Linked DNA regions of Homo sapiens: region 1 is linked to region 2. Evidence: fine-mapped expression QTL. Tissue or cell type: monocytes after LPS. Region 2 holds a variant in brackets; the other region holds the start of a gene. All regions are shown on one strand. Distances are from middle to middle.

Region 1 (8,105 bases), 170 kb after region 2:
GTACAGGGTAGGAAGACCAGAACTGTAACTGATGAATTGCTAGAGGCTCAGGGTGGTCAAGACTAAGAATTTAAAACTCCAGGGGGTCAGCTGGGCACGGTGGCTCACGCCTGTAATCCCAGCACTTTGGGAGGCCTAGGCAGGGAGATCACGAGGTCAGGAGACAGAGACCATCCTGGCCAATACGGTGAAACCCCGTCTCTACTAAAAATACAAAAATTAGCTGGGCATGGTGGTGTGCACCTATAATCCCAGCTACTCGGGAGGGTGAGGTGGGAGAACCATTTGAACCCAGGAGGCGGAGGTTGCAGTGAGCCAAGATCACGCCACTGCACTCCAGCCTGGCAACAGAGTGAGACACACACACACACAAACACACACACACACACACACACACACACACACACAAAGGGGGAGGGGGCCTAGTCTTTGGAGGGCACACTCACACTTTTGTAAGTTTTACCTCCAGGAGTTCTTCCAGGTTCTCTCAGTGAAAATCAAAGAAAAATCACCTCCTACATCCAACAGGGAGAGGTGAAAAGAACCATTTTGAAATATGTCAAAATATTCTGTTCTTTTTAACAAGGCCTGCCCTCAAGAGAAACTACCAGAGCCTAACCTATTACAGTTTTAGCAGAGCCTAACCAAGCTGATAGATGGGAAATATCCAACCCCAGCCCCCTCTAGACATCCTGTCCCACCCAAGAAGGGGGATAAAAACTAAGAAGCACTTGTGAAGTTTCCAGCCTAGGGACACAAGCTCACTAAGACTGAAATCTAATCATAGGTCTATAGAATGTTTCCCCTCCTCCCACATCTTAACACCGCATCACTGAAGCCCATTTACTCCAGTGCCTTTCACCCAGTGCATCATGTCCAGCTTTCAACTAAAAATTACAAGGCACACTACAGAGCAAAAAACACAGTTTGAAGAGGCAAAGCAATCATCAGAACTAGACTCACATACGGCAGAGATGTTGGAATTATCAGACCAGGAACTTCAAATAACTGTGATTAATATACTAAGGGTTGTAAAGGTAAACGTAGACAACTTGAAAGAACAGACGGTTAATGTAAGCAGAAATGAAAATTTTAAGGAAGAATAAGAATTGCTAGAGATATAAAATTCTATAACAGAAATGAAGCATGCCTTTGATGGATTCATTAATAGACTGGACATGGTTGAGAAAAGAATCTCTGAGTTTGAGGATATGTCAATGGAAACTTCCAAAATTGAAAAATAAAGAGAAAAAGGACTTAAAAAAAAGAAACAATATCCAAGAACTGTGAAACAACTACAAAAGTATAACATATGTGTAACAGGAATACCAGGAGAAGAATTAGAGAAAGGAACAGAAGAAATATTTGAAGCAATAGTGACTGAAAATTTCCCCAAATTAATGTCAGTCACCAACAATGTTAGACCAACTCTCTAAAATCTCTTCCAGAAGATAGAAGCAGGGGGAATACTTCCTAGCAGCATTGCCCTAATACCAAAACCAGACAAAAACATTACTAGCAAAGAAAACTATAAACCAATATATCTCTTGAACAAAGATGTAAAAATCCTCAACAAAATATTAGCTAGTAGAATCCAGCAATGCATAAAAAGAATTGTACAGCATAACCAAGATTTATCCCAGGTATGCAAGGCTGGTCCAATATTTGAAAATTCATTCATGTAATCTACCATACCAATAGACTAAAGAAGAAAAATCACATGACCACATCAATAGATGCAGAAAATGCATTTGACAAAATCCAGCACATTTTCATCATAAAAACTTTCAGCAAACTAGGGACAGAGGGGGAACTTTCTCACTTGCTAAAGAACATCTACAAAAACCCTAAGGTAACAATATACTTAATGATGAGGAGCTTACCTATAGAGGAACAAAAATAAAGAATGACATCCAACTTCTCAGAAACCACGTAGACAAGAAGAGAGGTGGAGTAAAAGTGTTCAGAGAAAAAAACTACCAACCTATAATTCTGTACCTTGCAAAATTAGCCTTTAAAAGTAAAAGTCTGTTTCTTCTACTTTTGGTCACCACTGTCCCCTAGCATCAGCCCAGAGGAACAATGCAAAGAGAAAGAGAAGGAAAATGAGGAAAACCGTCAGATAGTTCCATATTTACAGATGAAGAAACTAAAGAGGATCTGAATAATTTGCTCAAGTTCACACAGCAAGTAAATGCTGGAGCTAGGTTTTGAACCCAGGGATTTTGAACTCCAAAGTTTGTGTTCTTAATCTCGTACCATTGGGATGAAATTGTACAGTGAAAGACAAGCGATGATATAGATGATTGCCTAAGTATTCCAAATCCATCCTGACAAAAAAAAAATCATTCTAGTTCATCACTGCTCACTATATAATTAAATACAATGAAAAATAAAACAGGCTTTATTTACTTCTGTATAAATCAACTTACTACAATTTTTCCTTCCAAATAATGGAACAAGTATTCACTTGAATTTCAAAACTATCGTTTTCAAATGATACTTTAAAAGTATCGTTTTCAAACGATATTTTAAAAAGTATCGTTTTTAAATGATACTTTTAGTGATACTTCACTGCCTGGTAGTCACTAGAGCCTGATCACAAAAAGATCTCATTAAGTTCGTAGAAACTGGAGAGAAATAGTCTTCCAATGTAGAAAATTAGAAATTTAGGGGAAAATATTCTTCCTACATAGAAATTTATTCTGCAATACATCAACTATCCAGCTCTTAATGATGTTAATATTTCTTCATCACTACCTGTCTCCCAACATCAGTAAGCTTTTGATAAAACTGGGGAGGAATTCCCCACTCCAAATTCGTCTTTCCCCACAGATTCCAAAACTCTTACTCTGGTTGTTCAGGGTTGTCCTTCTAGGTATGGAAATATGACATTCCTTTTCTGCAACAGGATGATTTATCTGACAAGAATAGCCTCCATCTACAAGTTACTTTGCATTTTTCAAAGTACTTCTACAAGTTCATTTGCTTCTCATACTATTCTGCCTGTTTCATAGGAGGGCCTTACAGGTTAGGTGTAAACACTTGTAACGAACTTGGCACTATTTGACTTACAGCCAGTGCTCAATTAACGTTAACCATCATTACAACTATTGTCATTCCTATATTGTGAGGAAACTATGCCCCTTAAAGATTAGGGTAATTTATCTAATATCTATGACAGAGTTGGTACCCCAAACTAGGTTGATTTCTACAGCAGTTCAACTTCCTATTAGGGTTTGTATCAATAAAACTGTGGGACCCGCCAGGGCTGGAATCCCACTGCTACCTGAGCATCCAGTTGGTGACCAGGCTCCCCGAATTAATAAAAGTATTTGTTGTTGTTTTTATAGCAGTTGTCCAGGAAGTATCTCCTTTCGAACTCAAGTCACTTGGGCAATTGGCTTTACAAAGCAAATTGGCTCCGTTTAAGGATTCTTGACTCCTGAAATCCGCAAGGAAGTGGGTTCTTTTAGAGCCAGCGCCAAGAGCTTCAAAAAATCCTTCTAAGGTGAACCCCTCCGGACCCGGATAGCGAGATGGGGCTCAGCCTTGCGCCTCGGGGGTCGTAACAGACGGCAAGGTGGAGGTGGCTTCCCGGCCCCGCAGCCGGACCTCGGCACCCCGAGCCCGTTCACCGGGGCCGGGTCCTGGCGGGCCGCGGAGTGAGGCCGGGCGGCGCAGCGCAGGCGGTGCCCGGGCGCAGGGCCAGTCCCGCCGCCGCCGCCGCCGCCGCCGCCGCCGCCGCCGCGAGCCCGGACCTGCCCGCCCGACCTGGCGGCGCAGTCTCGCGGGATCGCTCAGCTCTCGCTCCCCGTGCGGCTCTCGAGGCAGCTCCAGTCCCGGACGCAACCCCGGAGCCGTCTCAGGTCCCTGGGGGGAACGGTGGGTTAGACGGGGACGGGAAGGGACAGCGGCCTTCGACCGCCCCCCGAGGTGAGGCTTCCACGGCTGGGACTGGGCAGGGGCCGGGCGGGTGCCGGGGGAAGCGGGGAGGGCCTCGAGGGGCGAGGGGCCGCGGCTGGGATGAGGCGCGCCGGGAGCCGCAGGTGCTGGGGAGGCAACGGCGGGACGGCCCGCACCTGAGTTTCCTCGGAAGCGGGAACCGGCTCTGAAAGGCGATGCCGGGGCCCCGCGGCGCCGCGCAGGCCAGGAACGCTGCTGTCTGGCTCTAGGCCTGGGGCAGGTTCCCGGGTGTGGGGCGCTGGCGGACCGGGCATCAGTGTGTGTTGGGGCGCGGGTAATTCGTAATCCGGGGCCTACAGCCTTCCTCCCGCAAGGGGACTGCCTTCGCCCTTCCCCCGGGACAGATTTGCGCACTTTCCTTTCGACGGCAGCACTACACCCTCCTAGCCAGTGAAAACTGCAATGTTGCTCCTCCACTGGAGGAATCCTAAAAGTCTCCCTCTAGTTGGCCTTACGAAAATCGAGAAAACTACATACCCAGAAGACTGCCACAAAAACTGACTCTTCAGAGTCTTTTACAAGTTTAAGAACTCTTTGGGTCTTAAGGAATTTCCCAGGGCCTTAGTTTTCTTGTACTTAATAAGCTTTCCAACAGGGGCCCTTAGATTGTATGCTTATATTAATCCTTTATAATTTACTCCGAATCACCAGCTTTCCTTTTTTCCTCCATCTTACTCTTGCCATTCCCTCTTTTTAACCCTGTCTTCCATACAGCACCAACCTCCTAGCATCGGTTTCCTAGAGGTGCAGCTTCCTTAGCAAATGATATATTCCATGCTAAGGCAGGTGGAAGAGTATCTCGTTAGGACAGAATTTTCCGTTGTTTTTCCAGTGTTTGTTACCTGGGGTGAAAATCTTAACTCTGCACTTTGACTCCACATTTGAGTTTATGACAAATGTTGCTGATACACCCTCCTTTTGTTTTTACAGTAATTGACCCAGGACTCATTTTCAGGAAAGCCTGAAAATGAGTAAAATAGTGAAATGAGGAATTTGAACATTTTATCTTTGGATGGGGATCTTCTGAGGATGCAAAGAGTGATTCATCCAAGCCATGTGGTAAAATCAGGAATTTGAAGAAAATGGAAATGTTTACATTTTTGTTGACGTGTATTTTTCTACCCCTCCTAAGAGGGCACAGTCTCTTCACCTGTGAACCAATTACTGTTCCCAGATGTATGAAAATGGCCTACAACATGACGTTTTTCCCTAATCTGATGGGTCATTATGACCAGAGTATTGCCGCGGTGGAAATGGAGGTGAGTAGTGCTTCATACGTTTATTGAATAGTAGTTTATGCTCTGTTCTAGAATAAACTAGTAAAAATAAGTCTATTTTTAAACAGAGCCGATTTCTTCAAGTTGTGTACAAGTTGTGTTTTGAAAAGTCCTTTTGAAAATTAAATCCCTCTACTGACTTATGTTTTGTGTACCTTTGCGGCCCTGTTTAGTAGATTCGTTTGAATAGGGTTCATTTTATATAATGAAGTATGGTTACACATGATTTCTAAATACCTTGTACCTAGAAAATATTTTGCTTTCCTGAATCAAGTATGATAGTTCTTCTAGAAATGCGAATTCTGAATATTTTTCTACTTCACTGAACATGTAATATTTATTGCCTGGACTAAAACTGAAGAAATTTACAAGTTTTTATAAGTAGTTGTAATATTCACTTGGTACAGTTTTTCTGAAATAAATAAATTATCAGAATATTTTGTTGCTGTAGACTGTATTTTAAGGCTATCACAAAGTCACTAAAAAGTGACTTTGTTTTCTAAGCATAGCACTTATATGTTCTTTATAAGATACTTGTTAAAAGAAACCACTTGGGAGGAGTACAGTGACACTAAAGATTGCCTTAGGTGCCTTAGTTACCTGTCTCTGGTTTAGAGATATGCAAATTACTAGGGAGTGTGAGAAGAAAGCTACCTGTACAGACAGGAACCTGCCTTCCCATACAGATTTGTTAGGTTGTTAAGTCTCCTGAAGGAAACTAGACACATGCATTGTTTTTGTAGTTTTTCTCCAGAAAAACAGAATAGTAAAGGCTTTTTTCCCTCAGATTGTTGCTAAGAGAGGAAATCCCTACAAATTTAATATATATACTATTTTTAAAATTGATTAGATTTGATTTTGCAGCTTTGAAAGTTTTCTATTGTTGTTCAGTTGAATAGTTGTCTGACTGCCTCATTGTGGACTCATGTCTGGAATAGGAAAGCTTATAAATACTAAGTAGATGTTATTTAAAAGGATAGTACAGATTATATTATTGTTATCTTTCAGTGGTTTTTTTCAAACTGATGCTAGATGTCCTTTTGAACTGAACAAATGATGCACTGAGACTTTCATGAATCAGAACCATTTTGATGGTTCAATCTGATTCAATATGAAGTATATAGTGAGAACACTGTGAAGCAATAATTACATCATTCATTCACTTTTTTGCTGATGATAATATGTTTTGTAGTGTTCATGTTTTAATAGTGTTCCTAAATTTTTTAAATCTAATTTCCTTTGTATGTGGTAACTACATACATTTTAAGGTTTTTGTTTTTTCTTTTAGAGATGGGGTCTTACTATGTTGCCCAGGCTGGTCTCAAACTCCTAGGCTCAAGTGATCCGTCCTGCCTCAGCATCCCAAAGTGCTAGGATTACAGGCGCGAGCTACTGCACCTGGCTGACCATTTTAAGTTTGAATGCTAACAGTGACCTTATAAATTCATATCACCTAGACTCAAGAGAGATGCATCCCTGCTATTAAATGCCTGTAATTATAAGATGGTAGCAACTAGCTTTGTTCTGCACGTCTTTTTAAAACCAAATTTTTTTTACTTTCAAAAAAATTACTTTTTAATTTACCTAGCTTCTTTCCCAAGTAGTTTTGTGCCTGGATATTATCAAGAAGGCTTTTTGTTCTTACCTCTTTTATATGATTGCTAATACTACCAATCTCTTCATTATATAATTTTCCACTTATAACTAACCTTTCTCATAGCCTTTACTAATGAAGTTTTTTTTTTTGCTATAAATCATACTTCAGTAAATTTAAGGATACAAAAGAAGAGAGCCATCAAGCAGTCACAATACCAGCATTAACCTAAGTCTATAGAAGAAAGGAAAGAGAAATGAAAAGGCAAAAATAATGTCACCCTGGCTCAGACTTTTAATCCCTATATGTAATTTCTCAGTGTATACTATTGTGTTTTTCCTACTGCCCCTTTCCTATTTATCCATATACAGTAGTATTCTCTTTTAGTTCCTGTATTTGAATGTCCAAAATCCTATAAGTTGAGAGTTGTAAGTGACCCTAAAGATCATATAGAGCTTCTTAACCTTTTTTATGACATTAACCCCTTCTCAAGATAAGAGAAGTTTTAATATTTAAATAAATAAAATGTGTAGGATTACAAAGAAAACAAATTATATTGAAATATAGCTCAGGTAAAGAACCCCCGAACCCTTCATTATACAGATGAAGAAACTGAAACCCAGAAAAGCTGCGATTTGTCCCTTTGAGCACTCTAATCTGATAGTCTTCTCTGTCTACATGGACCATAATGTCATCTTTAACTGGTTTTTTTTTAGGCCCTTGTCCTGATTGGATAAACAAGATAATATTTCTTATGATTTAGAATGCAATGTGTAAATTTCAGACTTTGCTACTTATTTGCAAACTTCATTTAGATAAAAATTAAACTGGGTGATTGTTTTACCTCTGTTTAGCTCTGTCTCTCTTTTTCCTTCTTACAAGTGCCTTGAATACAAAGTCTTGTTAGACCAAAAATAAAATCTCTGTGGCGCACACCTGTAGTCCCATCTACTCTGGAGGCTGAGGTGGGAGGATCACTTAAGCCCAAGAGTTGGAGGCTGCAGTGAGCTATGATCGTTCCACTGCACTCCAGTCTGGGCAACAGAGTGAGACTTCAACTCAACAAAACAAAATGAAAACAACAAAAACAAAGCAAAAGTTAACTCCCTAATCTTCAGTCTCTCTAGTGGTGCCACAATGATTTTATTATAATTCAAATTTGTGCAGTCCACTTTAGGGTTAAAATCCTTCATCATTTTCCCTAAAGCTGGGGAAAAAAAGACCTGGTTCTAGAGCACTCCAGGCCCTTCATGTGGGACCCTGGCTGC
Region 2 (8,105 bases):
CCATTGACACAAGGCGTAAACCCAGTAAATGTCTTTGTAACTTTACTTGATCCTCTTCATTTACACAGGGCGTACACCAAGTAACCAATGGAAACCTCTAGAGGGTATTTAAACCCCAGAAAATTCTGTAACAGGGCTCTTGAGCCCCTATGCTCGGGGCCACTCCCACCTCATTTTCAATAAATCTCTGCTTTTGTTGCTTCATTCTTTCCTTCCTTTGTTTGTAACTTTGTCCAGTTCTTTGTTCAAGACCCCAAGAACCTGGACACCCTCCACTGGTAGCAAGGGGGCCATGTGATAGAGATCCTGCCCCTCTCCTGTATGGACATTTGGACTCAGCAAGCGAGGCCAGAGTCACAGAGACCCTCTTAAAATGACCTTGCTTTTAGATGCAGGCTGATTAGTTGCCAAAGCCCAGCAACTGGCAGGATGGGAGACATGGTGACAGTGTCTGGGTGGCTCATGGAGCCCCTCACAGCCATGGGTGGTGGCAGGAAATGGGCAGAGGTGCCTGGTGCCCAGGGTGGGGCTACTCTCCACCTGCCTTTGTCAGGCTGCTTCCCAGTTTCTTTTTTTTGGTCTGTGTTCTTGTGTGTCTCACAATGCACTCCATTTGTTAAAGTAACTTGAGAACGTGGCCATGTCTTGTGGCTTAGAGGAGGCTAATTGTCACGGGAGACTCTCACGATCTCTCAGGAGGGAGTGGAGTTTTCTCAGAATAAAGAGCATCAGCTACAGTGAAGAATGGAAATGGGGCTAATGTCTATTGACTGGGGACTGGTGAGCAAGATCATGGCACCTCCGCACACGATGAAATCCTGCAGCTGGAAAACAGAACAAGGAAGCTCTTTGTGTACTGATAAGGAGTGATCTGCAAGATATTTTCCTAGGTGAAAAATGTGAGCTTCAGAATGGTGTAGCAAAATGAAACTCAGAAAATATCTCTAGAATATTACACCTCATCTAATGACGCTGGTTGCCTATGAGGAGGGAAGCTGGGGGCCTGGGGGCAGTGATAGGAGAAGAAATTTTCACTAAGCATTGTGTAATAATTTTCCTAAATCTTGAATCATGAAATTCAGTCACCTCTTTAAACAATCAAATCAGAAAAACATCTATTAAGAACATGACCTATAAAGTTGAGCAAGTCCTATGCTTGGGCTTGCCCCCACAATTTATTGCTGGGTAAAGTTGAGCAAGTTACTCAACCTCTCTGAACTCATTTTGCTCATCTGTAACATAATCACAGGCTTGCCTCCACAATTTATTGCTGGGTAAAGTTGAGCAAGTTACTCAACCTCTCTGAAGTCATTTTGCTCATCTGTAACATAATCACAGGAATAATACCTGCCTGATAGGGCTGATTGGTTATTGTTGTTGTTTTGTTTTCTTTCTTTCTTTTTTTCATTTTTTTTTTTTTTTTGAGACGGAGTCTCACTCTGTTGCCCAGGCTGGAGTGCAGTGGCACAATCTTGGCTCACTGCAGACTCCGCCTCTCGGGTTCAAGCGATTCTGTTGCCTCAGCCTCCAGAGTAGCTGGGACTACAGGCGTGTGCCACCGCGCCCAGCTGATTTTTGTATTTTTTAGTAGAGACGGGGTTTCACCGTGTTGGCCAGGCTGGTCTTGAACTCCAGACCTCAAGTAATCCGCCTGCCTCAGCCTCCCAAAGTGCTCAGATTACAGCTGTGTGCCACCACACTTGGCTGTTGTTACTGGTTTTCACACAAGGCATTTTCCATTTCCCATTTTCCTCTTAGCCTAATAGCATGCTCCTTAAGCTACAAAACTGCAAAGCAGTGCTATCCTTTGTTTGCAGTTTTCCTTTTTCTGTTGGGTGCTCTCCATAAGATAAGGGCCATTGAGGTTGGGCCAGGTAAATTAAAACCAGCCTCTACTGTACTCAAAATTATCTCTTCTATTTGGAATGGGCTCATTGTCTTTGGACCCAGCCCATGCCTGACGCTCTCTTTCTTTAAAAAGAGTTCTTTTCCTAGCCCCTTCTTGGTCCCCACTGCAAAGTTTTCTATGGATTACATAAGCACTTCTAGATTCCCGGTGAACACAGTTTACCTTAAGCTATTAATTAAAACATTCGTTATTATTACGGTGCCCATTTCCCATTATCTTCAATCACAGTATTTTGTGCATTGTAGTCACTGAAGTGTGACCAACATTTCATTCCCGCATAGTGATGCCTCCAGGGCTCGTGGACTGGACAGTCTAGGGTCGTGCTCTGCTCTGCAGGAGACAGGGAGCACCCAAGCCAAGTTGGTTCCTACCTTCCCGGCACTAGGGGGTGCTGTCTTGTTTAGCTATTTTCTTAGTTTTATTTTTGCCTTTGAATAGATGTGCCTGCTGCACTTACATCTCCCTGCAAGGATAGCAAAAGCTATAGGAAGATGATTGTGGAAAGGAAAATAGGGTCTGTGCAACGAGCTGTCTGGCTTCCTCTCTGTGGGGAATGAGCATTAAGACATTCCCAGGCTCAGTAGGTCTGGAATGGGACCGAGATATGTGCATTCTAGTAACTATTCAGGTGATATTCAAAGCCACAGATGGGTCTTTTATTTCATTCGTGATTTGCTTTTCCCATCTTTTCTTTAAAATGTGTCTGCCGACTCTCACTCATGGTGGTATTGCCCCTCCTGGGCCTGCTGATCTCTGACTGTGTATTTATTAGATCTTCATCTGTGGGAGTCTTCTCGGCTTAGGTTGGGGGTGCTCTCTTTAGGGAAGATTTGCATCTGCTTCTTCTGAGAGCCATGGGTCACTGCCAGCTTGGAACCATTTAGAGCTCCTCGTGAGTTCTGGTTTAATGAAGGTCTTAGGTTTGGCCTCCCCTCCTCATTGCTGGCCCAAGAGTGAGGATCTGGATCATTTGCTCTTAGGGTAGTTCTGCTCCTCCCTGCTTGCTCACTGCTTCCAGCTCTAATTTCTACTTATAGTTTGCTCCATTTCATGTGGAGGAGTCCCTTGGCAACATCCTCTATCTCCTACAAGCCCATCTCATCTATGTTTTATCTAGGATGTAATTGTTTTGCAGAAGGAGAGCTGTATTAGTCCGTTCTCATGCTACTAATAAGGACATACCTGAGACTGGGTAATGTATAAAGGAGAGAAGTGTAATTGACTCATAGCTCCACAGGGCTGAGGAAGCCTCAGGAAACTTATAATCCTGGTGGAAGGGGAAACAAGCACATCCTTCTTCACATGGCGGCAGCAAGGAGAAGTGCCGAGCAAAAGGGGGAAAAGTTCCTTATAAAACCATCAGATCTTGTGAGAACTCACTCACTGTCAGGAGAACAGCATGAGGGTAACCGCCTCCATGATTCAATTACCTCCCACCGGGTCTCATATGTGGGGATTATGGGATTACAATTCAAGATGAGATTTAGGTGGGGACACAGCCAAACCATATCAAGGGCCTATGAGAATATTTGGTCTGAGATGTTATCAGTGGAAGTCTTTTTTTTTTTAATGCAGATGTTCTTATTTCTATGAGACAAAATGGTAATACATCTATTGTGAGGGAATTATTCATCAAACATATGCAGTTTTATCATTCTGCACTGTAGGAAGGTTGAAGGAACACGTGTCTGGGTGTAGTTTGTGTGTTACTTCTCACAGAATTACTGGTGTATTATATTATGTTCTATTCTGGGTGTCTTGAGGCCTGATAAGACAAGCATGGCCATGAGAAATTCTATAATTCCACTCGTGTCTCCACCTACCTTTTTCTTCCCTTTTGTCCAGTAAAGGAGGTGTCTCTGTTGCATCAAAGCCCACCCCACACAGTGGGTTCTAGATCCCGTCCCCTTCATCTTCTCAAGGACCCTGCTCCATTGGAATCCTCCCTCTGCTGCACCATCAACT[C/G]CCTCGCAGGGAGACAGTTCCCATCCCACATTTTCCCATCTTTAAAAAACCCACCCTTGGCCAGGTTTGGTGGTTCACACCTGTAATCCCAAGACTTTGGGAGGCTGAGACAGGAGGATCACTTGAGCCCAGGAGTTCAAGACCAACCTGGGCAACATGGTGAAACCCCATCTTTACAAAAAATAAAAAATTAGCTGGGCATGGTGGCACCCAGAGAGCCAGGGGTCACTGCCAGCTTGGAACCATTTAGAGCTCCTAATGAGTTCTGGTTTAATGAAGGTCTTAGTTTCGGCCTCTCCCCCTCGCTGCTGGCCCAAGAGTGAGGATCTCGATCGTGGCACATCTACCATAATTTACTCTTAGGGTAGTTCTGCTCCTCTCTGCTTGCTTACTGCTTCCAGGTGCTTGGGAGGCTGAGGTGGGAGGATCACTTCAGCCCAGGTGGTCAAAGCTATAGTGAGCCATGATCATACTACTGCACTCCAGCCTGGCTGACAGAGCAAGACCCTGTCTTAAAACAAAACAAAACAAAACAAAACAAAACAAAACAAAACCCACCCTTGACCCCACCTACCCTAATTCACTTTTCTATTCCTCTTAGGAACCAGATCTCTCAAAATATATGTCTATAGCTGCCACTTTCCCTTTTTCACTCTCCATTTGCCTTTGCTTTTACTTGGTTTCTATTTTTAGCAAGGTTATTTGCACATATTTTAAAGACTCAAGAGTTCTATAAGACTTGTTATGAAAACCAACAGTCCTCTGCTTTCCCCATCAGAGACAACTACTTACAACTCTTGTAGCTGCTTTTTCTTTTTGGCATTTAGCTCTGTGTTTCTGAATAAAATGCTAGTATTGGGCTACTTAATGATCCCTCAATTGTGAGCAGTAGCTATTGACTGCCCCTACAGAGGAGGAGGATTTAGCTCTCATTCTTTCCCCTTCCCACAGCATGCACATACATTCTTTCCACCTCCTACCATTCCTGCATGGTTACATCTTAACTTTCCTTGGTTCAGTAATCCATGTTTACTTTATTTTGATTATATAGTGATATCGAGAGCAGAGTCATCTAGTAAGCTTAGACTACTTTTTCTTCCTTACACAACTTTTAATTTTCCTTGGGAATAATTTTTTATTTGCTTAGTTTTCTACTTATTACCAGTCCAACTTCAAACTGCCATAATTTATCTTTCTGCTCAAAACGTCTAGATTTATGCTATTAGTTTTGTCCTCTTGAAGAATCCCTTCCAAAACCTCTGACTTTCTCCAATTTGGATTGTCTCCAAACCACCCTCAAGACCTGGTGTAGCACTGTTTTGTTTTGTTGTGTTTTCTTTTTCTTTTAACTTTTATTTTAGGTTCAGGGGTACATGTGCAGATTTGTTATATGGGTAAACTTGTGTCATGGAAGTCTGGTGTACAGATTATTTAGTCACCCAAATACTAAGCCTAGTACCTGATAGTTATTTTTTCTGCTCCTCTCCCTCCTCCCACTCTCCACCCTCAGGTAGACCCCCGTGTCTGTTGCTACCCTCTTTGTGTCCATGAATTCTTATCATTTAGCTCATACTTATAAGTGAGAACATATGATATTTGGTTTTCTGTTCCTGTGTTAGTTTGCAAAGGATAGTGGCCTCCAGCCCCATCCATGTTACTGCAAAGGACATGATCTCACTCTTTAAAATGGCTGCATTTAATGGTGTGTATGTACCACATTTTCTGTATTCGAGCTGCCGTTGATGGGCATTTAGGTTGATCCTATGTCTTTGTTATTATGAATAGAACAGTTTCTTTGGAGGTCTTTTCATCAGTCTAGGGATTCCCTTCATCTTTTGCCTGGGTCCTGGCTCCAAACTTTTCTTTCCTGTTTTGGTGGAATGCGTCTTCTAGTTACTTCTTCAGAAGTGCATGTGAGGTAAAATTTTTGAGACCTTGCAAATATAAATGCCTTTATTTTGACTTTTCACTTAATTGATGGCTAGGAATAAAAAATCTAGGCTTAAAATAATTTATTCAGAATTTTGAAGGCTACAGTCCACTGTATTCTAGCCTCTAGTCTTGTGATTGAGAATTCCAAAGACATTCTGATTCTTTTAAAACTTCTGTTTTTTATTTTTAGATACAGGGTCTTGCTATGCTACCCAGGTTGGATTTGAACTCCTAGGCTCAAGGGATCCTCCCACCGTAGCTTTCCAAGTAGCTGGGATGATAGACACTTGTCACCATTCCTATCTGGCATTCTGATTCTTAATCTTATGTATGTGACACATTTTTCTCTTGGAAGCTTGTAGGATCTTCTCTTTGTCCCCAGGTTTCTGAAAATTTATGATGGCATTCTTTGGGGTACGTTTAATCCGTTTTGACAGTTTAATTCTAGAAAAATTTCTTGAATTATTTCATTGGTGATTTCTTCCCTTCTGTGCTCTCTTATCTCTTTCTGGAATCCCTATTATTTGGGTGCTGGATCTCCTAGACTGATCCTCTAATTTTCTTTTCTATATTCTGTTTTTTTTTTTTTTTTTGGCCTTTTCATGCCTCAGTTTCGTTTTTCTAGCTCTCTACTAAGTTTTTCACTTCTTCCATCATATATTTAATTACCAAGGGCTTTTTGTGGTTGTTGATTGTTCTCTAAAGGTTCTATTTTATTTGTATTCTTTTCTTTTTTTAGGGTTGTAACATCTCCTCTGATCTCTCTGAGGACATTAAATACAGTTTTCTTGACGTTTTCTTCCTCTTATATAGTTCCCATTTTTTTCCAAGTAGCTCTTTTGCATTAGAGTCTTTCTTCAGATATCTTTTAATACCTGCTGTCTGCTTATCCTTGACTGTGGAAACCAAAAAAGCTGATTTGAAGCTTTGTTCACCTGAGTGGAACTTACCCACTATGAGCTTCACAGTAGGGCAATCTGGCTTGACTATTTCCTTGGGCAGCCCTGATGTATCGTTAGGTGTTTTCTCTGGATTGGTTGGTTTTCCAAGAGAATCTTTCCTACGTGTGCTCTGGCAGGTGAGGAGGGAAAGAAGCCTGAAAGTCTCAGCACAGGTAAGCATACAGTCTCTTAATTGTCCTATTTGATATTCCAGTCAAGAGACTCATTGTTTGATCTTTTCCAGAGAATGAATCCAGTCTTCTGCCAGGATGGGGAAGGGCATCTATTAAGAGTATGGTAGGGGTCTGCAAATATAATTCCTTTTTAAATTGCTTTCAACTAATTCTCCTTATTTTAATGCCAATTCCCACCCACTTGCCCTACCTCTATTTTTAAAGTTTCCGGTGCCACTAACTCCTGAGACTTTGAAAAATTTGAGGTGCAAATGGTGTTGGTTTTAAGTTTCCTCACTACTGACATAGGATTCCACCTTCTTCAGCCCACTAAATTAGCTAAAACTTCTCCAAATGGTTTCCAGCTTTCAAAATACTGTGGCATTTTTGTCCTCTCCCCGTCTTACCATCCTCATGGGTTTATGTTAAAGATAATCACTTTAGTGTTTGTGTGTGTGCGTGTTTGGCTTGAGAAACAAGTAAAATTACATGCATGTGTTCCCATCTACTCATTAACCCACTTGCTCTGGCTGTGAAGCTACCCCTCCACTGCCACTTTTACCAAATTCACCAGTGATGTTCATGTTCCCAACAATGGGCTGTTTTTCATCCTTGACTCACACAAACACTCAGGAGCCTTAGTCAAAATTGAATGCTTTCTTCCTGACAGGTGCTCTTCTCTGGGCTTTTGTGACACTATACCTTTTTGGGTTTGTTTTCTGCTTCTTTGATTTCTCCTCCCCAGCTTACTTCTCAAGTTCATTTTCCTCTGCCAGTCCTCTAAAGAGGGGTTTCCTCAAAGCGTGATCTCAGGCCATCCTCTTTCTCTCTCTCTATGTCTACCACTTTCTCCTTAGGAAATTGCACACTTTGTTCATGGCTCCAACACTGATCTTCTTTTGATTCTTCATCTTCTCTATCTAATTGCCTACTTGTCTCCCAGGCATGTTTAACTCAAAATATCCAAAACAGACATCCTGATTTTTTTTTCTCCAAATTTATTCCTCATTAAGTCTTCCTCACCTACCTAGATATACAAGCAGAAACTGGAAAGTCATTCTTGTTTTCTCCCTCTTCCTTACTTCTGACATTTAAAATATCAGCAAGGCTTCTTACTCTACCTCCAGAATGTGTCTTGAATCTATCCATTTTCTCCATCATCACTGCCACTGCCTTAGTGTATGA

Which allele goes with the higher level. Positions count from the first base shown, and alleles are read on the strand shown. Sizes are in standard deviations (SD) of each study's normalised expression.
For the expression in monocytes after LPS of the gene that starts at base 3,839 in region 1, G is the high allele of the variant in region 2 and C is the other (moderate effect, 0.44 SD a copy in Fairfax 2014).

The links. PIP is the estimated chance that this variant, and not a neighbour inherited with it, causes the effect.
Region 1: it holds the start of FZD6, and the variant in region 2 is fine-mapped to the expression of FZD6 in monocytes after LPS (Fairfax 2014, PIP 0.90).

The regions. Positions count from the first base shown.
Region 1 is chr8:103,295,060-103,303,164 of GRCh38, forward strand. FZD6 (frizzled class receptor 6) reads left to right here and starts at 3,839. Exons shown (of 7, transcript NM_003506.4): 1 at 3,839-3,936; 2 at 4,897-5,225. The coding sequence starts at 5,049. LOC105369147 (a long non-coding RNA gene) reads right to left here and starts at 3,759. Exons shown (of 2, transcript NR_148216.1): 1 at 3,290-3,759. RefSeq lists enhancers at 3,415-3,915, 3,916-4,416, 4,270-4,319 and silencers at 3,520-3,569, 3,580-3,749, 3,870-4,119, 3,982-4,276.
Region 2 is chr8:103,122,790-103,130,894 of GRCh38, forward strand. The region is part of intron 1 of LINC01181 (long intergenic non-protein coding RNA 1181); the gene reads left to right. Among named protein-coding and RNA genes, the nearest start is that of LINC01181, 5.8 kb to the left of the region's middle. The variant C/G (reference allele first, on the strand shown) is at 3,875.